7 linked regions of the Homo sapiens genome follow. The protein of the gene in region 4 purifies or fractionates together with the protein of the main gene of each other region. This does not show direct contact. Each region holds a gene or a part of one and is shown on either strand. Other genes may lie near its edges. The genes, in order: SPTBN1, KCNAB3, ATXN2L, SPDL1, SULT1C2, U2SURP and DBF4B.

Region 1 (3,500 bases), on a different chromosome or scaffold from region 4:
CAATCCCATACACAGACAGCCAACACCCAATACTCCTAATACTGTGTCTTTCTAGTTTGGACAAGTGTCTTTCTATTCTGGAAATGTTCTACGATGCTGTTAGAGCAAGTAATATTTTGGGTTAAAAATGCCTTCCCATGGAAGGTGGACTCCTGATAATGCAGTGGGTGAGAAAAGACTCTAAGGACTATGGCTGTAAAACAGAAATACACCCAAGTCCATGATGGCTTGTCCACTTGCCTGTTGCTTTTTCAGCAGGATATTGACACTGGTCAGGTCTTTGCCATAGTCATCAGACTGAATCTGACTCTCCAGGCCGTGCAGCCATTTGTCTAGATCTGCACAGCTCTGGGTGAAAAGTTCGGCCTTGTTTGCATCAAAGAGCCGCTGGGCCTTTGTCTGGGTAGTGGATTCAAGGACTTCCCACATTTTATGTAAACCAGTGAGTTTCTCCTTCACCACAGCTTCCGTCTCAGGCTTTTCTGAAATGAGCTGCATTCCTTCCTGGAAAACAAAACCAACATGGTTGTAAATAAACAAGTTTGCTACAGAAAAAATGTCACTGTGAAAAACAAACCTAGGACATTTGATCTGTGATTTAACCATTCACTCAATACACACAGTCTTTCCACATGAAGTTACTGCTCAATAAAATCAACAACGACCCCTAGGTTGTGTACATTACAAGGGTTTCATGGGAATTAAGCAATAAATGTTACATGCTGAAATAGTCTCAACTGGGGCAACGGAATACTGAATGCTAATAACGTGACTTTATCTCCTCCATTCCATGACCAAAGATGATATACAACACATTATTATTATTATTATTATTATTATTATTGTTATTATATTGAGACAGAGTCTCGTTCTATCACCCAGGCTGAAGTACAGTGGCGTGATCTCAGCTCACTGCAACCTCTGCCTCCTGGGCTCGTGCCTCAGCCTCCCCAATAGCTGCGATTACAGGCACATACCACCAGGCCTGGCTATTTTTGTATGCTTCATAGAGATGGGGTTTCACCATGTTGGCCAAGCTGGTCTGAAACTCCTGGCCTCCAGTGATCCATCTGCCTTGGCCTCCCAAAGTGCTGGGATTACAGGCATGAGCCACCGTGCCCTGCCAACACATTATTTTAACCGTGAAGAATCTGAAACACTATAAAAAGTCTAAAAGGAGAGAAGTCGGGGGGAAGGGGGGGACTCCATATTCATCTTCAGTTATGCTGCCCAGAATCTCTCTGTGCAAGAATAACACATCATAGTAATTATTATAGCGCCTGGTATACAGTAGTCTCATAGGAAAAAGCAATTTTAAAAAATATGTATATATTTAAAATTATGTGCAATCTGTCACAGTACAACACAAATAATATGATCAAGACAGTGGAATCCCTGCATGAGAGCTCACAGTCCATCAGCAACAGCAGATGAGAGGCACAACAGAAACTAAATGCCTAGTATTCGTTCTACGATAAATCAAGCATTTTCTACTAACTGGTTGGGTTTCTGCTTTTTTCCCTTTTGATGGGTTGAAGTCAGGAACCCGTACGTGCAAAGGGAGCTATTACTGGCTGTGTAACTTACGTAAATGTACAGATAAGATCAGATATGCTGGAAAATGTGCTAAATAAAAAGGAGTTTATTACTACCCTGTTTGTTTTCTCACCATGGCCACATCAAATGTTTTAACTCACCTTCTCGATTTTGTCAAGCCATTCTTTGTTGGATGCAAGTTCTGCCATAAATGCTTGATGCTTCAACCATTTACTGTGCAGATTTCTGGCTTCATCGTAAGACATGTCCTGGGCTGTGAGCATCTTCTCATTGATCCAGAGAGACAGCTACAGAAAGATCAGAAGGATTCAGAGATTGTGATCCTAGACATCAGCCTTTTTTCCGCCTGGAAAGGGTTGTGTTTATGTCATATTATGCATACTACACACGTTTCCATGGTGACAGACAACCAAATATTTAACTTCACAACTCTGACCCGTCATGACAGGTGTCCATTAGATGGAGCTTGTACCTGAGCTCTGCTCCAAACTATATCTAACATTCATTCCAGAAGTACAAAAGCTCTATAAGCCAGTTTTCAAACTGTTTGGCACTCATAACTGGCTTTCCCCACAAAAGGCCCGTGTTTAAAATTCTACCCTAACCACTCCAAGACATGACTCTTTTTCTCTTCCAAATACCTGTGTCAGCTATACCATGTTAATCATGATTGACTTTTACTCCATTTGGCAATCCTTCTTACTCTCTTAGTTCTTTTTATTAAAAAAAAAAAAAAAAAACTACTTATTTATTACCTCCCCCTTTTTGTGGGTGCATCGAAGGGAATGCAAAAAGGCATAAATAACTTGCTCACTGTAGGGCTAAGGCAACAATCATGCCCTTTCAATGTTTCCTTCAAGTTTGAGTCACCTTCACCTCTTTTTCTATAGCCTCTAGTTCTCTAAAGAACCTTTCATTCACACCAAGAACACTTCACAGGACTTGATTTTGAGACCCAACATGTCTGCTTGGATCTGAACTCTAGAGAGCCGCACAAAGGCTGCTGGCCGCTGACAGACCTGAGAAAGGAGCTCTCTTACCGGGGTCAGCCAAACGCCAGGCCCAGACCCACTTTTGCTGGCTTCCATCCCGAATCGGCCCTGGCTCATTACTGCCTGCCTGTAAGGGCCATGCCAGAGTCCTGATTCCCGCCCCATTTGCTTTGCTAACCTAGGAAGAGCTTTTTGTTTGCCCAGGCTGAAGATACACAAAAGAATGCAGAGCCAGCCTGGAATCAGAAGTAACCAACTGAAGGGACCATGTCCCTTCTCCTGAGTGACCGTGAGAAGCCCACTTTTACACCAGTTATTGTCACAACAAATTGGCACCTTAAATCCTTCATGGTTCTACCAACAAAGATCTAGAAGTGACACATAAAACCAGTAGAAGTACTTACAGAATTAACACTTCCAAGGCCCTTCCACTCCCACTGTGGGCTGCTGCCAGGAAAGGCTCCCCGAGATTTGTTTTTTGGAAATGATGTCAAGGAGAGCGACGTGGGTCACAGGAGCCCTCTGGCTCTGAAAGTGGGTGAACTCTTGGGCACTGTCCCTATTCTCAGGCTATTCACCACACAGGGAATGGGGCAGGGGGCGGGGGTGGGAGGGGGTTAAAAGCAAAAGGTAGTGAGATTTTTGATTTCACTCTTTGTTGAGGGAAAAACTAGCAAATCTCATAAAGTCCTTTGTCATCAAAGACCATGGATCTATTAGACAATAAAGGCACGCACTTCCTACTTGGAAAAAATTATCTATGTTCCAGTTATCTGGGCAGCTAAAATCTGAAAGACTATGGCTATTCAATCTTAGGGGAAAAGAAGTTAAAGTAAAACTTAATGACAAAATTTTTCCCAGTATTCTGTACATACACACAAAACAGAAGGCATTTATTGATTCAAAGTGCCAAGGACATTCACATATTTTCGCTATTCATAACCACTTACC
Region 2 (2,749 bases), on a different chromosome or scaffold from region 4:
TCCATGGCTAGGTCCTTTTCCTGACACCCAGTGTTCTTCCCTTAGGAGTTGGATCAGTCACTTGGTACCCTCTAGCCTGTGGTCTCATTACTAGCAAGTATGATGGGCGAGTCCCAGATACTTGCAGGGCCTCCATCAAGGTGAGATCTGGGGGCTCTCGATGGCAGGACTGGGCTATATGGGCTGCTTTGGGGGGAGTTACGGGGGGCTGCTTTGTGAGTGTGGTGGTGGTGGTGGTGATGGCGGGGTCTTCTGTTGATTCTTCTTGGCCTCCAGGGCTACCAGTGGCTCAAGGACAAAGTGCAGAGTGAAGATGGCAAGAAGCAACAAGCCAAAGTCATGGACCTTCTTCCTGTCGCTCACCAGCTGGGCTGCACCGTGGCCCAGCTTGCTATTGGTGAGACATTGCACCCTGCAGGGGCCCTGTCTCCTCCTGACATGCTCCCAAGCCCATCCTAAAACTGGTTTGTCCCTAGGGAGGACGCTTGTCTTCAGAGACACTTCTGAAATCTATGTGGTCACTGTTCCCCATCAGTCCTCTTTTTTTCCTCCTCTGGCCCCAGCGTGGTGTCTCCGCAGTGAGGGTGTCAGCTCTGTCTTGCTGGGGGTGTCGAGTGCGGAGCAGTTGATAGAACACCTGGGCGCGCTACAGGTGAGCCGGGGACTCAGAGGCAGAGCCTATCTGTCCCCCTCCCCAGGAGTCAAAGCCACGCTATCCAACCCAGGATGGCTCTATCAGGTCACCCACTACAAAGTCCTCACTTTGCAGGTGAGAGGTCCCAGGGCCGGAAAGCGAGGCACCGGCACAGCTGCGGCTCTTGCCTTGCCACTTGACCCCACTGTGGTGCTTCCCCGGCTACTGGAACCCCATGCCCTTTCTCAGTGACCCAGCATGGGCTGCCGTCGCCACCGTCCCACTCTCCTCCAGGTGCTGAGCCAGCTGACCCCGCAGACAGTGATGGAAATAGACGGGCTCCTGGGAAACAAGCCGCATTCCAAGAAGTAGTCTGTCGCGGGCGCAGGGACCCAACCCGGTGTCGCTGCACCCGCCCGAGCCCCGCTCCTCGCAGCCGCCTCTCCCGCTCCGGATCCCTCCACGCAGCGGCCGGAGCCAGACTAGCCCCGCCCACCAACGAGTCCCGGCTTCGAGTAGTGATACGCATGAACAAAGCCATATCCTTTTGCAGTGGGGTCGAGAGAGAAAGTAGCACGCCCGCCCCCTGCTGCGTCTTTCTAGGCCCTTCTTGCAAATCCCGGGCATGAGCTACTCGCCGTCGGCTCTCTGCCACTTCGTCTCGCTCCCTACTCTCCTCCCCTTATTCCCGAGGCCCAGAAAAGAAAACAAAAACAAAAACCCAGCACATACAAGAAACATACAGTGTACCTCAAAAGGGGCCCTTGAAATGTCATCAAAGGGTAATAACCTAGTGAGTGAGTTGTGATGTCATCTGGAACATAGGAAATGGGGCTCTTAGCGTATTCGGTACGAAGGAAGCCAGGCTGGTCCTGGCAGGAAGTAAATGATAATCTTTGGGAAACCAGGACCCTGCCTCCCAGCCCAGAGGTGGAGGAGGGCGGTCAGGGTGGGGTCTACAGTGGCACAGCACTGACAAAGGTAGAGGGAAATGTAATAGCACATCTACGCTGCAGTCTGGTGAAAGTGGCCGGGGTGGTCCTTGGAAAACAGTTGGGCTGTTCTTGGCAGGAATTAGTGACAGCCTTTCCGTCACGGGCAGGGACGCCTTGATTTAAAAAAAATAAATAAATAAAACGTCTGGGTATAGACTTTTGAGCCTTGAGCAGGGCCTCCTACCTGGCAGTGGGGAACTGCAGTCTTCCTCCTGGCAATAAACCTAAAGCAATAATGATGGCCCCTTCTCTGTAAGACTTCCCAGGTAACTGTAAATAAACCTCAGCTTGATCCTCACAGTGTCTAAAGTTGCAGGGGCTTGGGAGGTTAGGGTCACAGTCTCACTTGTCTGGCCCTCTCGCCCCCTAACATTAGAAATCTGCTAGCATTAGCTTTCTCTCCATTGCTCATTCACCTTGGTGACCCAGGCATCGGGCTCCTAGTCACTGTTCTCATCAAGGACCAAGACACCAGATACCCCAGGCCCCAGTTTTCTTCCTTCAGCTACCACATTCCTTAGAACCCAGAAATCTGGCTTCATAATTTTGTTCCTCCTCTTTCTATGAAAGACTTAGCTATCTGCCTTTATTTGTTTGTATTTAAAGTAATATTAGCCATACTTGTTCCTTGTACTTCTCATTTCTCTCTCGCTGGACACCCACACATATGCCAAGGAACCTGTGGCTGAGGGGGAGATGCTGTTCTGAGGTTGAGGCTTTGTGATTTGGTGGAGAGGTAAAGTGAAGAATGGTCTGAGGTTGAGGGAATACAGAGAGAAGGAAAGATGTTATCATTTCACTGGAACAGAATTGGGTGGAAAGTTACAACCTTAAAGATCACAAGGTAGAGGAGGATGAGCTCTGCCTTCCTTAAATACAACCTGCCCATCTCCCTTCTACCCGTCCTCATCCCGCCTTGATCCAAAAGCTGGGCAAGCAAAGTAAAACCAATTTCCAAAAGAGAAAAGTCAGCAGCATGCCATTTACTGGATTAGCAGCCAACTGCATCAACTAATTAATACTTAAATCCACCCCATCATCTCCCACTCATTTTGCAAGACTGTGGAGGAAACAAAGAAGTAAAATATATTACTAAACTATGATTAGTTATTCTGTAACA
Region 3 (2,367 bases), on a different chromosome or scaffold from region 4:
GGCTGGCTTCCAGTAGGCGTGGTAGCCGGCTGCGGCTGGTGGGCATGGAGCTGTGTGGCATGGTGTGGGTAGGACTGGTGAACAGTGGCTGCAGCAGGAAAGAGGGAGAACCAGTGCTGAGCACACCAGAGGGGGCTGGCACACAGCCCAGAGCAGAGGGACCAGGCGCAGGACTCACCATAAAGGGCTTGGGGGGTAGGCTGCTCTGCAGAAGGGTACTGAGGGGTAGAGGATGACACGATGGCCTGGGGATGGCTGCCCGACGTCAGCATGCGTGGGTTGCTCTGAAGCATGGGGGCAAACACCGGCTGGCGGGACAGAGAGAGGAGTGGTTGGCACAGCCGCCAGCTGGGAAGGTGTCCTCCTGCCAGTCACTGCGTGCACAGCACCGCTTGGGCCTCCTCACAATCACCCTATTGATTCAACATTCATAACGATCCCACCCAGCAGACACTATTTTCTCTACACTTCAGAGATACAGATGTCCAATGCCTTGTTACAGGTACCACCAGAGCCAGGGCTCAAGCCCAAGTCTGACACCGCCAATACCACAGAGGGCCGATCCCACCTACAACACTGCCTGCCACCCCTAGCCAGCTCCCAAGTCTCTGGAGAAGATGGGATCCCTAGCAGGGGCCCTGGATCCTCACTGCCCTCCTGGGCCGCAGTCACCTGTGAGGGGTAGTGGGCCATGGGCTGCATCATGGCTGGCTGGCCTGGGAACTGCTGAGGGTTGTAGGGGATGTAGGAAGAATAGGGCGTGGCAGCCACCAGAGGCGGGCCAGCAGCCGCGGCGGCCTGCATCATCGGCGGGGCTGAGGCTGGCTGGTGTTGGTCCGAGCGCTGCGGAGGAAGGGAGCCTGGAAGAGGAGGAGGAGAGGAGAGCTCAAGCTCCACCTGCCAGTAGGCCCTTGGCAGCCTCGCCGCCTGCCCCTCCCAGCCCTGCTCACCTTTTGCTCCCCGGTACTTGCCCTGCTGCCCAGGCACTGAATTGGATACAGGATATGGATACATCTGAGGTGCCTGGGGATGAGGACACAGATGAGGCTGAATGACTCGCTCACGAATGCCCAGACAGGCCTGACCTGGTCCCTCAACCAGCGCAACCAAATCCCACCCCGCTAACCCTGGGCCCGGCCAGTCTCTCTGCATACCTGCACAGCTGGTCCCATGTGGATCTGAGGTATGTAGGAGATGTACTGGGGGCTGTATAGCCCACTCTGGCCTGCTGTCAGCACCGGGATGGAGGGAGTTGAATGAGTCCGGGGCCCCGGAGAAGTTGGGGTACTGGTGGATTTATTCTGCAAAAACAAGGGAGGACAATTTTATTTTGTATTTTCCCCTCTACTCCTGGCCATGCCTAGAGTGGTAATAATTAACATTCGTGAAATGCTGCATACCAAACATATTCTGCACTTATCTTGATAAAGCCTCACATTAAACCCTATGAGGAGATGAGTATTCTAAAGTTACAGGTGAGGCAGAGAATGTAAGTGACGTCCAAGATCACAAACCTTCCAAATACAGGGGCTCAAGCCAAGTCAGCTGGCCTCTGTTCATGACTACCCCACTCCAATACTCCCTCAGCCAAATGCCAAGAACCAAAGAAAAGCCTGTTAACCCCTCATCAGACTCACTGGGATCCCTGATCCCCTGATCACCCAAACCTAGAGACCTGAGTCCATTTTCCCCAAGCCAGCCCCAAAGGTGCCATCCTTACATTTTTATGACATCTCCTCACACTGCCTGCCAGGCAAGTGGTCCTGGAAGTGAAGTGTTCCTCCCCCTATTCATCTATAAGCACTGCCCAAGTCTCCCCACAGAAACCAAAGTCCACATTCTCCTGTCCCAGCTCACCACAGACAGCAGAGGCTTTGTAGGATTGAACTCCTTAGCATTAGGGTTCAACGTTGATTTCTTTACTTGTCTGTGAGAGAAAGTACAGTAAATCTTCACGGCTTGCTCTCATCCCTCCTGCCATCCTCCCAGAGCCCCACCCCGCTCCACTCACTCAGCAACAGGGCCCTCATCTTTGTCTTCTCCCTTGATGAGGCCCACCGGGGGGCTGCCAGTTTGGCTTGGACAAGGTGGTGGGGGCTGCTCTGGCCCCTCAGTGCCTCCTGATGGTGCCAGGGGTGGTTTGTCCTCCTTATCCGATACGGACTCTGTCTTGGAGGAGACGGGAGACCCCATGGGCTCTGAAGTCAACAGACCATCAACCTCTTTCTCCTTTCCTTTGGGCTCCTCCTTTAAGATCCGGGGAGGAAAAGGATCCAGGCTGTTCTCAGGGGAGCTACTGGGCTGAAGCTGGAAGAGAGAAACACACACAGTCCAGTCTGACCCAGACCCTAGTCCTGGCTTTCTTCT
Region 4 (2,253 bases):
TACATTTGCTTAAGTGATTTTTTATCAAGCAAAAAAAGGCAGAAAAAGGAATGAAGACAATACAGATAGCAAGGCTGGCACTTATCAATTCTGGAAATCCACCTCCAGAAATATACACTGGTCAAGGATGTTTATACAATGCATCACATATAAACAGGCATAATCTGCTGGATTCATTTCAGAACTCTTTGAAACCATGGGTATGTGGCAGATACTCATTTGAAGTTACTTTTTCCTTAAGAATGGTAAGCTTTTATTTTATGTGACTCAGAGGTTATAACATTCTATAAAAATCCAAGGAGGGAGTAATAAAATTACTATGCCTTATAATAATAGCAGCTAACATTGTTAAAGTGCTTTTACTGTTGAATATTACATTTAGTAGCACTGAAGACTTGGAGAGAAATCAGATAAAACATATAAGCCCTTTTAAACAGGGCTGTCTTACTCTCTCTACTCAAATGCACATTAGTAAAATGTCTTATTAATCTGTCTCCACTCTCTAAGACTAAGGTAGCCCTAGTAGCACCTTCAACATCTCATTTCATAGGAGATAATCTAGGCTAGTTATTGGCACATCTTTTTGAATGTCTAGATATTTGTTTTAAATGCCTCTAACAATCCCATTGCATGCAGACATCCTTCATCTTTCTTTTACTTTCTTCAATTTCCTCATTCACTTCTCCTGCTGCGCACATCCAGAACTCGAGCCTCAGCCACTGCTACTTACCTTTCCCTTCCATTCACTTTCTCTTACCTTCTGACCTCAATTATTTTTATTAAGACAAAGCCCTTGGGACATTAATTCCTTCAGACACACATATCTGACGCTATTTCTTTTAGTCACAAACTCAATTATGCAGAAACTAGAGGCTTTCAAGTTTTGGAAACAATGAAAATGAGTTAGCTTTGATATGTAAAAATGTCAAAATAAGTATTGAAGCCCATTTTTGAATGCCTAGGATAAGCAATTCAAAAGACATAAAAAATTCACCTAAGTTTCCTAGAAGGCTGAAATTTCTTAGACTACTGGAAAGCCCTTTGAGAAAGTAAGTTAATTTTTCTTTCATGGCCATGCTTGAACCAGGAGAAAAATAACAGTACATGTATTCAAACTGATAAAACATTCAGAGATGTGTTAAACTGTGATATTCCCTTTCATGAAACAGAAACGTGTAACTTTTTAATGTGATTGCCTTATTCAAGAGTCCTTTCCCTTTGCAATCAGTTTAGTCTTTCTTAAAGTTCTGGAAAAGTTGAAGGTAGGTAGATGAAACTGAGGAATTATACTGCATGCAATTGTAAGAAAGTAGATAAAGAAACAGACAGCACAGTTCATGCAGCGAGAGAGGAGAGATGGAGAGGTCTGCTGGCTGCCTGGAGGAAAAGAGGACACTGACCTGGGAGAGTTAGGGGTGTTTCCACTTCTTTCACTTAAGGCCTCAGCGTCAGCGGGAACTCCTATGAGTTTCACACATTTCTTTTCCTTCTTCAGCTGCATATCCACGGGCAGATTTTTGTGAGGAGAGAGACTGACTACTGGTGTGTATATAGAAACTGATTTTTCTAATTGCAAGTTGTTATCTTCTAAACTGTTAGGGCAGGACTGTGTCTCCTCTTTCTGAGGCGGTAATCGATAAACTTCTCCCCCGAGAGCACTGTTGTTGACACATGCATCTTTAGCGGTGGTTATATCCACAGGGAGCACCTCACGCCTCTTTTTCAGTACAGGCACTTCAACTGTCTCTGAGAATAAAAACGAGTGGGGAAAAGAAAAAATCTAAGAAAACAAAGACACAATCAACACAAGAAGCCAGAACTAGTTATATGTATACCTTTTTCCATTCTTTTAAAATGCAACCATCTCCTCACTGAAATGCATCCTTTGTTTCTACCTTTTATTCTTTATCATGGAATCTATATAAACTATATATTTTAAAGTTTATTTGGCTATATATTTTTCCTTGGGAATTCAATATTTTGACTTTAGGCATGAATGCTTCACTGTTCTCTCTTGGTGTTTTGAAAAAGGTGGTTCATAAGATCTCAGTGTGGAGATGAAGAGACAGCGGCAGAGTCCAGGTTCGAATCCTAATCCTCGTATGTGACAGCCATGTCTTTGGGGAATTATTTAACCTCTCTGAGCTTCATTTTATCTGTAAAATGGGGATTAAAAGCACCCACTTCACTTGGTATTGTGTATTAGAAGGATTAAATGACAAGAATAGGCCAAACTTTCTGAATATTGGTAAT
Region 5 (2,261 bases), on a different chromosome or scaffold from region 4:
TCCATCCCCCTGCACAGAGTCCCCTAGGCCTGCTTCTTATAGGAGAGCTGCTCATGGACAGGTGTCCACTGAAGGGGGAGTTGGGTGAGTCAGGTATGTGGACAGGCCAGATTCAGTATGGGCACTACACCACTTTACTCAGGGACACCACATCTTTCAATCAGAGTGACACTCCTGTCTGGCCTTCCTTTTTCTAGGAACTGTGGGGGATTGGAAAAACCACTTCACTGTTGCCCAGAATGAGAGGTTTGATGAAATCTATAGAAGAAAGATGGAAGGAACCTCCATAAACTTCTGCATGGAACTCTGAGCAAGATGTAAATAAAATTAAAAGGTGGATGGCAAGAGTGCAAATACTATCTTCAATCCTTCAGTCCCAGCCAGAAGAATCTCTGAAAGCATATTGTGAATGTATACAATGTAGTACAAACAATCTCTGTGATGATTAACAGTATGTCACCACTTCATTTTTTAAAAAGGATCACGTCTAATGCCCATTTTCCCAACTATTCTTTCCAAAGTAAGATATAAGGTAGCTTAATAAACTAAGTAAAACGTATGACTTGAGTACAAAAGGATTGTTTTAATCCCCATTATTCTGGAAAGTGCATCCTAGTCTCCCAGTCTATAACATCATAATACCTTGAGTATAAGTCCAAATATTAGGTTATATCTATATTAAAAACAAAATTTCTGTCATCTGTCCTGGCCATTCAGGCAACTCCAGCCTGGGCTCAATCCTGGAGTTCTGTCTGGTCACTATCAGAAGGAACACTTTGAGGGAAACCCTGGTGCAGCCAGCCCTGAGGAAACATGGCCTGAGTGCCCTCACTGGTGGGTGGGAATAAAATGGAAGTGCACAGAGGAGATGTCAGAAGACCAAAACTTGGTGAATAGTCCCAGTGCTAGGTCATATAGGAAACAGAAAGCATGACAGTGGCCTTTTGGGAACCCAAGTTACGTCCTGGTGAAAGCAGAAAGGAGGAGACAGGATGGCTGTCAACAACGTCAGCATGGGCATGGCTCCCAGGCATGGAGGTAATTGGGTCTTGGCTTCAATGCCACCCTTTTGGGAAGCCCTAAACCAAGTGAGGTGTTCTTTTCCCTTGCTTCCCATATTTGTCCCAGTTGCAGCCCTGTTGTTATGTATTTACTCTTCAATTTCTTATTTATACCTCTCACTCAATTGTTAATTCTTTGGGTTCAGTCTCATGCCATATTTACTCCTAGTACCTAATGCAGTGCCTGGCACACAGCAAGTGCCCTTGAGAACTTGTAGAGGGAGTAAAAAAGTGCATGGATAAATGACTGCAGCAAATCACAAATTTTGAACTTTGACCCTTTTCTTTTAGTCCCAAATAGTGGCATTCCATAGCTGAGGGTAGTAGGAGCAGTTCACCCTGGGAGCAGACAATAAGAGGAAGAATGAAGCCAACTAAAATTCTGAATGCTTTTTGTTGGATTTCGTAGGGTATTTTTTTTAAAATAGGGTCTTGCTATGTTGCCCAGGCTGGTCTTAACTGACTGCTTTTTATTATTACCATGCACTGGCAATTCCAAACAATGTCAGTGTTAAAATGCTTCTCCCTGAAAAAGAGAAAAAAAAAAGGAAAAAAAGAAAAGAAAAGTGAAAAGAAAAACTCTTATTGGCCTAAGTTCTAAATAATAGCTAGGTTACCACTGAGTTTTAACTATATGTATATGAGCTTCAAATAAGCACCTTTTTATTATGTAAATAAATAAAAGTTATCTGTATCCCCACTGCATTGTAAAATTTTTGTTGTTTTGTTTCATGTCTTATTCACCTTTGTATGGAAATTAATTCAGAAACCCCAAGCATAGAGTCTACCTCTTTAATTCCAGCAGGCAGATGTAGTTCTGCCTGCTTCCTTCCAAGGTTAAGTTCATAACAGTTCAGAATCTTGCAAGCTCACTTCAGGTATAACCTGTGTCTCCAACCCTGCAGTATTTGGATATTGCTGTTTAAACAGTAGATTTGGCATAGATGATGGTGGCACAATGGTTGTAAAGGAAAAGAAGCAGAACACCTCAGTTTGTTCAATTCTCTCATTGGGGTTTTCAGTTGTATCCAGAATTTAAAACAGTAAAATTTAAGAGTGTGAACAGCAACATTCACACTTTGTTTAGTAAGTACAAAGTTGTGCTCATACAGGAAGTTTACTGACTTTGAATAATAACTTTAAAAACAAAATTTACTCTTTTCTAAGTGTTAATTATTTGTTTTAAAATTTAAGAATGAA
Region 6 (3,500 bases), on a different chromosome or scaffold from region 4:
TAGTATTACCCAAGAGAAACTTATCAAAAGCAAATGGTTAGCAAACCACCAAATAGGAGTCTCAGGTCCCTTAATTTGGATAGTCATCTTAGTAAATATAAAACTTAAGCTACTTGAACACTGGGGCTTATAAAGTGCATCAGGTATAAGAAGCACAACAGTAGTGTGAAACTCAGTAGGACTTTAAGGGACTTAATATCACCGGTGGGGCAAAAAAACAACATTATAGTTTTCTGTTCAGATTTTATTTGAAATCTAATTCAAATTGTCAAAGCTACAAAAGGGGGGAAGACATCTGTATTATTTTTGCTAAGTCACAACATCCTAAAACAAAATACTACTACTGTCAGCAGATCCATTATACACATTTCTGATGAAATCCATTAGAACAATAAAAATTTCATCTTGAGAAATAGCCACAATGAAAGTAATTTACACAATATAAAACAATGACAGATCTACAGATGCAGTTGCTCATGAGTTTACACATGCATACACAAACAAACAAAAAACCCCAGGAATGCTCTTTCATTTGATTTTTTGTTTTTTTAAAAAACAGACCGTTCAGGCACAAAACAAATCGCATTTCCAATAAGTGACAGCATCTTAAAAATTTACGTCAGTGTTTGTTTTTCTTTGACTTTTTATGAGACCTGTGTGGAGATCTGGACTGGGATCTGGACTTCTTTCCTGATTTTTTAGGAGATCTAGACCGTGATCGCCTAGACCTTTTAGGTGTCCTTGAACCAGATGGTGATCTAAGGAAACAAACAAAAAAATCCCAATTGATAAAGTACTCATGTGATCAAAACTGTTTATCCTTAAACGATCGAAAATGATCTTTAACAGGGCACAGTGAAAAATCACTGCAATAAGACTATGAACTTCTAAAATTTAAACTCTATTGTACACACACACACACAGATTATTTTGTACTTACTATGCACTGCATCAATGATCATCAGTAGAGCGCTTGTTTATAAAGACAGATTTCTGTGCCTTATCACTGCTCTACTGAATCAAAATCTCTGGAGGATGGAACTAAGAATTTGCATTTTTAACAAGCTCCATAAGTGACTGATAACCCCCAAATTTGAACCTTTAATCTACAAGATAAAGTTCAAAGTTGCACCTAAGATCATGCACAAAATTTAAAAAACACAGCAGCTTTGAAGTTTATCATCCTGAAGCAAACAACTACTGCAGTATCATTCAAGGGCATCATTTAAGACATAATTTTGTAAGTGCTGTTCATGAAGGATTACTTAAACCAATAAAGATACATGTACATATACATACATATATAACACATACATACATATATATACAGGTGCCATTTAGAAAAGGAGAAAGGTATCTATTCTGTAAAGATTTTACTAAAAATAGTTACAATAATAAAGTATTAGCATACAAAGCAGTTTTAGCTCTCAGGAAAATTCCTCTATGTATCACCAGATAAATAAAACATTTCTGAACCATTTTTCTGGAACTAAAGGAAAAAAAAGTATACAAAATACTAAAATACATACTGAAAAAATGGTATTCATGATATGTATTTCCAAAAATATCTACCCAAGAACTTGCTAATAATATTGCTATGGGGGAAAAATGTGTGTTTCTTTCAGCTTTGACAAAAATCAAATAATATTCTATAGAAACTAAAGAACAGAACGAAAAGTAAAGCAGCTAACCCTATTCCACAGAAAACATTGGATATGATGTTTAAAATTCTTGGCTGGTCCTCACTTGTTGGAAGCCTTCACTTCAGTCATGAAAGAGATTGGGATGAGGAGGTGGGGAGGAATAACCAAAAATGAAAGTGTATCTCTTTGGTTTTCTAAAATCCTTAAAAAAAAAAAAAAATGTATGCCAACCAAATTATTTTCAAAAGCTGATGAAATGACAAGGAAACTGGTATCTGAAATATTAGCAAAAATGACTTGCATTTACCTTTTGGCTTTTTTGCTAACATCTCTAGGAGAATCTTTGTGAGATGACCTGGACCGTGAGCTCTCTTTATGAGATCTTTCTGAACGCTCTGATCGCTCCGATTTTGGTGATGGGGATTTCACTCGTCTACCACTGCTACTGCGAGATGGGCTGGGGGATGTACTGTGTCGCCTCTTCCTATGGAACAAAGCCCCCAAAACATTCCATAAATGAGCAAAGGATCGGGTATTCATTTTCCTTTACTAAATTAGCTATTAATTGCTACCAGCTTACTCTTTTATTCTAACCATGTAATGTTACTTTTAACAATACTCAAAGTCCTTTGTAACAAGAACAAATAAGTGTTAAAGATAGGTTGTCAAGAGACAACAACTGAATTCAACTAAATTGGATTTTCTCTTTGCAATAAGAGGTTATTGAAACAACTGGCAAAATCTAATTAAGGTCTCTGGATTAAATATCAGTTTTTTAAAATGTTGAATGTGGTTAAGAGAATGGGGCATCATGTTGGCAAATTATTCTTAAATGGTTGGAGGTGGGACAGAAGAGGAAGAATAAAGCAAAAGTAGAAATACTTTAACATTTGGGTAATGTGGGTGAAGGGTAACTATCAATTATACTATTCTTGCAACTTTCCTATAAATCTAAAACTATGTCAAAATAGTAATAAAAGTCAAAAAAGTGACAGACTTTTAACCAATTGGCATAACTTGTTATTTGTAACTATCTGTAGCGTGACTAAGCTAGACTTTTATTTGCAATGGCTTGGTCTTTTTATTAGGAAAACCTCAGTTCAGTTAAGGGAAACAATTTTCTTTACTCAATCAGAGATTTAGGAACCGTGAGAGTAAGACATAAAAACTGAAAGAGAAATGCTTTTGATTAGAATGAAGACTTAAGGTGAGCTTTGGCCTATGTATACAACCTCCTTTCAAGATAAGACTAAGACTCAAGTTTACAAGTAGCAGCCTCAGCACAGATACTGGAAAATATGCTTAAATTGGATGCAACAAGGAAAATCTAGCAAGTTGTTTTGTTACTTAAACCTCAGGTTTGATATCTAATACTGTAATTGAATCCTTGCACTGAACTAAGGCTAAGGATACCATATAAACCATGTGAAGGGATGATGCCCTGGTTAACTAAGTCAAGTGCCAACTAAATGCCCCATTTCTCCGCTATTTCTGCCTTCTGCAAGCAGGACCCAAACAAGTTTATCATGAACAAACACTTCCAGTTTGCGGGCATCAATGATGAAAGTATTATAAAACACCACTGCAAATCTTGAAACCAGTATATGCAATTAAATATGAGAAATGTTATACCTTTCCTTCCTTGTCGGAGTACACTCATCTTTTTCCTTCTTGTCTTTGGAGCGAGATTCCAATTTTTCTTTATCTTTCTTGTCTCTTTCTCGTTCTCTTTCTAACTCTTTCTCTTTCTCCTGTTATTTTTTATAGAAAATATTAAGTTGTTTAAAAATATCAATGTGGGTTAATCTCATTTATAGAACAATATCTTCTCTTACAGGAAATAATTTTTTAAATTAC
Region 7 (3,050 bases), on a different chromosome or scaffold from region 4:
TCCTAGCGAGGTAGCAACTATGATTATCTCCATTTTTCGTATTTATTTATTTATTTATTTATTTTCGAGACAGTCTCGCCCTGTTGCCCAGGCTGGAGTGCAGTGGCACAATCTCGGCTCACTGCAACCTCTGCCTCCCAGGTTCAAGTGATTCTCCTGCCTCAGCCTCCCGAGTAGCTGGGATTACAGGCATGCCAGCATGCCCGGCTAACTTTTGTATTTTTAGTAGAGATGGGGTTTCACTATGTTGGCCAGGCTGGTCTCGAACTCCTGACCTCAAATGATCCGCCCGCCTCAGCCTCCCAAAGTGCAGGGATTACAGGCGTGAGCCACCGTGCCCAGCCTAGATTACCTCCATTTTTTAGATCAAGAAAACAGTTTGAGCTGGGCACAGCTGAAACTCCCCTGGGAAGGGGAGCCAAGATCCAGGATGAGAAGGAGTGCTCGGGTATACAGCACTCCTGCTGGTGGCAGGATAGGGAAAGACATAAAAGATTTGCTGGCAGTCACAGTATTTTATTATTGGAAAGGGTCCTGAAATCATCTCATCCAAGCCCCTTACTTAAAGACGAGGAAACTGAGGCCCGAGTAATAAAGGCATTTTTCTGAGGTCACAGTGAGTTGGAGGCAGCTAGCTCCTGCATTCCACCCAGCAGAAGGGAGTTGGGGTGGAGCTACCAATCGGTCACATCTGCCGAGAAGTGAAAGGCTCAGCGAGAAGAGGCAAGAACAAAGGCCTGGGGACCTAGTCTGAGTAAAGTAGTTAGGGCTGGAGGGCTCTTCAGGTGTCTCGGAGCTGACTCAGGGCAGACGGCAAGGCCTGTGCTGAATGAACGAACGAGGGAATGGGCAATGGTGAGGAAGGGCAGGGGGACAGGAGAACCAGGCCACTGAGGGGCTGCTGCGACCAAGGGAGCCAGGCTTCAAGGAGGAAAGAAAGGAGAAAAGGAACCAACTTTGGTCACCAGTAGCCTGTCCATGACCTTGGAATAGATGATCTTAGTGGAATGCTTCAGGCAGAGCTACCCAGGAAGGAAGTGTGGAAGGGAAGGAGGTGAAGAGGAGGCGGTAGGTATAGACCGCAGGAAGGAGCCAGAGAACAGAAGGTGGGAGCCTTCAAGTATTTGAAGTCGATTTACTGAATCAACTCAAGTGTTTTCCAGGAGAGGAGCATGGCATTTTGGGGCAGAGGGGAAAGGTGGCAAGTCTGAGAAGGAAACCAACAAGAGTGGTTGGCGAGGTGGGCTGGAGGGCCAGGGACAGACAGTGTGACTTGTGGAGGGAGGACACCTCTTCAGAAAGAAACGGCAACATGTTGAAAAGGGACTGACTGCAAGATAAGGCAATGCCCACTGGGTCTGGGTAAAAGTCATCTGGTGCGATGTGGAAAGGGGGCTGGAGTGGAAAGGAGTCTGAGCAGTGCTCACGCCAAGGAGCCACTGCGGGACCTCATTCACATCAAGCAGCACCCATCCATCCTGGGTCAAGTCTCAGGTGTTCTGGGTTCACCTCTAACCTGAGTCTACAGCCAGGAAGCCGCAATGGAGAAATGGCTGAGGAGTGTTCCAGCCTTGGGGTTTGGCCTGGCAGAGATGTCCAAGGTCATGATCATTGAGATAGGAGGGGAAGGCAAGGGTACACGGATGTGAGGTTCGGGGAATGGGTCCTGCAGTTGACAATGAGGGCACCCGAACCCGGCACCACAGGCTTTGTGTGAGCAGCAGGTAAAGGTATCCAAGTCTGAGACAGGGGCAAGGGGAAACTTCCTCATGCAGAGGGGTGGTGTCATGGGGAATGAGGCAACCCCATGTCACAAAAGGAAAGGGACGAACCCAGCAGCGTGCAGACATAAGCCACGGTCTGGCTTCAGGGAAGAGGAGTGGGCCCTTAACAGGAATGTCCGCCGGGGCAAAGGAGTTTTCTTGGGAGGGATGGAGGGGCATGTCCTCTGCAGGCGACCACTCCCCAGGCAGCAGAGCCAAGGAAGTGACCAGATGAGACTGGGTAAAGGAGGCTGGGCAGGGACAGAGGCAGCCCTGCTCCCTGGAGCCCTTGGGCAAGGCCGGCAGGAGGGTTGTGGCACTCACACATGTGTGACTTGCAGGAGGTCCCATCACACCATCTAGTGATTCTGTCCATCGCTGCTGGCCCGCAGCCCTGCCTTGGGTCACTGGAGGGCAGATCAAGGACCGACATATGGCATTCCAGCCCCATCTCTTTGCTATTTGTAATTAACAAATTTATTTACATTTCCTGAACCAAAATTAATTGTAAAATTTAACAGGAAGGGGGTAACATGACCTCTAAGGTGGGCTGTACACATAGTTGCTCTATTTCCAAACTAATAACTTGAGTCCTCACCCATAGCTGGGCCCCCCCTTCTTCCTTTGAAAGGAGACACAGAATAGCATCAGGCTTCCGGAAGCTTCAACATTTAAAGAGACAACTCTTTAAATGCACGGACGCAGAGAAGGGTGAGAAGAATCACGGTACAAATTGTAATGAAAGAAAAAGTGGCCAGAGAATCGATAGCAAACCCATTTCTGTCTCCAGATTAATGGCTTGGCTGCCAGAAATGGGGGGAGGTCCTTGGGGAAGGAGAGGAGGGAGCGAGGGAGGAGGGTGATGTGGAAGTTGGCAGGTGACACACTGGCCCCGGAACAGCCGAACTTCGGGCAGGCAGCTCAAGCTGAGGAGGCAGAGAAGGGGCGAGAGGGGTCCCAGAGGGGGCTCTGGCCACATCCTGGGCTCAGGGGAAAGGTCAGTGCTGGGCCCCAACTAAGTGCCTGGGGGAGGGAGCTCTGTGAGTGGTGCAGCCCAAGCCCCTCCTCTGCTTCATATGTTCCTGAGGATCTGTGTGCGGGAGCGTGGGGGGCTGGGGGAGGGGACAAACACAGTCATTTTGGAAAGCAGGAGCGGCCACATGCTCGTGAGAAAGGAGGCCGGGGTTGGGGGTGGAGCACACCAACAGCTAACCCGCGGCTCTGCAGAGAGGCAAGGGCCTGTGGAGGGCCAGGAAGCCGGGCCAGGACTCCTGCTGCCCCAGCTCC

The links.
Region 1: the proteins of SPDL1 (region 4) and SPTBN1 purify together in Homo sapiens (affinity purification with mass spectrometry, with the first as the bait; one large-scale study listed by BioGRID). This does not show direct contact.
Region 2: the proteins of SPDL1 (region 4) and KCNAB3 purify together in Homo sapiens (affinity purification with mass spectrometry, with the first as the bait; one large-scale study listed by BioGRID). This does not show direct contact.
Region 3: the proteins of SPDL1 (region 4) and ATXN2L purify together in Homo sapiens (affinity purification with mass spectrometry, with the first as the bait; one large-scale study listed by BioGRID). This does not show direct contact.
Region 5: the proteins of SPDL1 (region 4) and SULT1C2 purify together in Homo sapiens (affinity purification with mass spectrometry, with the first as the bait; one large-scale study listed by BioGRID). This does not show direct contact.
Region 6: the proteins of SPDL1 (region 4) and U2SURP purify together in Homo sapiens (affinity purification with mass spectrometry, with the first as the bait; one large-scale study listed by BioGRID). This does not show direct contact.
Region 7: the proteins of SPDL1 (region 4) and DBF4B purify together in Homo sapiens (affinity purification with mass spectrometry, with the first as the bait; one large-scale study listed by BioGRID). This does not show direct contact.

Annotation. Positions count from the first base shown.
Region 1 is NC_000002.12:54,641,327-54,644,826, reverse strand, and holds part of SPTBN1 (spectrin beta chain, non-erythrocytic 1), read right to left. Parts: intron 1,845-3,500; coding exon 1,698-1,844; intron 505-1,697; coding exon 241-504; intron 1-240. UniProt on the Homo sapiens protein: Fodrin, which seems to be involved in secretion, interacts with calmodulin in a calcium-dependent manner and is thus candidate for the calcium-dependent movement of the cytoskeleton at the membrane.
Region 2 is NC_000017.11:7,921,359-7,924,107, reverse strand, and holds the end of KCNAB3 (voltage-gated potassium channel subunit beta-3), read left to right. Parts: intron 1-45; coding exon 46-140; intron 141-276; coding exon 277-397; intron 398-476; coding exon of another isoform or gene 477-563; coding exon 564-652; intron 653-928; coding exon 929-1,006; coding exon of another isoform or gene 1,007-1,263; 3' UTR 1,264-2,249; downstream 2,250-2,749. UniProt on the Homo sapiens protein: Regulatory subunit of the voltage-gated potassium (Kv) channels composed of pore-forming and potassium-conducting alpha subunits and of regulatory beta subunit. The beta-3/KCNAB3 subunit may mediate closure of potassium channels.
Region 3 is NC_000016.10:28,832,999-28,835,365, reverse strand, and holds part of ATXN2L (ataxin-2-like protein), read right to left. Parts: intron 2,308-2,367; coding exon 2,012-2,307; intron 1,928-2,011; coding exon 1,858-1,927; intron 1,302-1,857; coding exon 1,155-1,301; intron 1,024-1,154; coding exon 951-1,023; intron 861-950; coding exon 673-860; intron 309-672; coding exon 179-308; intron 89-178; coding exon 1-88. UniProt on the Homo sapiens protein: Involved in the regulation of stress granule and P-body formation.
Region 4 is NC_000005.10:169,600,773-169,603,025, reverse strand, and holds part of SPDL1 (protein Spindly), read right to left. Parts: intron 1,747-2,253; coding exon 1,401-1,746; coding exon of another isoform or gene 1,202-1,400; exon of another isoform or gene 1-1,201. UniProt on the Homo sapiens protein: Required for the localization of dynein and dynactin to the mitotic kintochore.
Region 5 is NC_000002.12:108,308,155-108,310,415, forward strand, and holds the end of SULT1C2 (sulfotransferase 1C2), read left to right. Parts: intron 1-197; coding exon 198-310; 3' UTR 311-1,761; downstream 1,762-2,261. UniProt on the Homo sapiens protein: Sulfotransferase that utilizes 3'-phospho-5'-adenylyl sulfate (PAPS) to catalyze the sulfate conjugation of phenolic compounds. Does not transfer sulfate to steroids, dopamine, acetaminophen, or alpha-naphthol.
Region 6 is NC_000003.12:143,053,570-143,057,069, reverse strand, and holds part of U2SURP (U2 snRNP-associated SURP motif-containing protein), read right to left. Parts: intron 3,395-3,500; coding exon 3,276-3,394; intron 2,128-3,275; coding exon 1,951-2,127; intron 759-1,950; coding exon 620-758; 3' UTR 1-619.
Region 7 is NC_000017.11:44,749,715-44,752,764, reverse strand, and holds the end of DBF4B (protein DBF4 homolog B), read right to left. Parts: exon of another isoform or gene 2,218-3,050; intron 2,171-2,217; coding exon 1,512-2,170; 3' UTR 826-1,511; coding exon of another isoform or gene 802-825; 3' UTR 501-801; downstream 1-500. UniProt on the Homo sapiens protein: Regulatory subunit for CDC7 which activates its kinase activity thereby playing a central role in DNA replication and cell proliferation. Required for progression of S and M phases.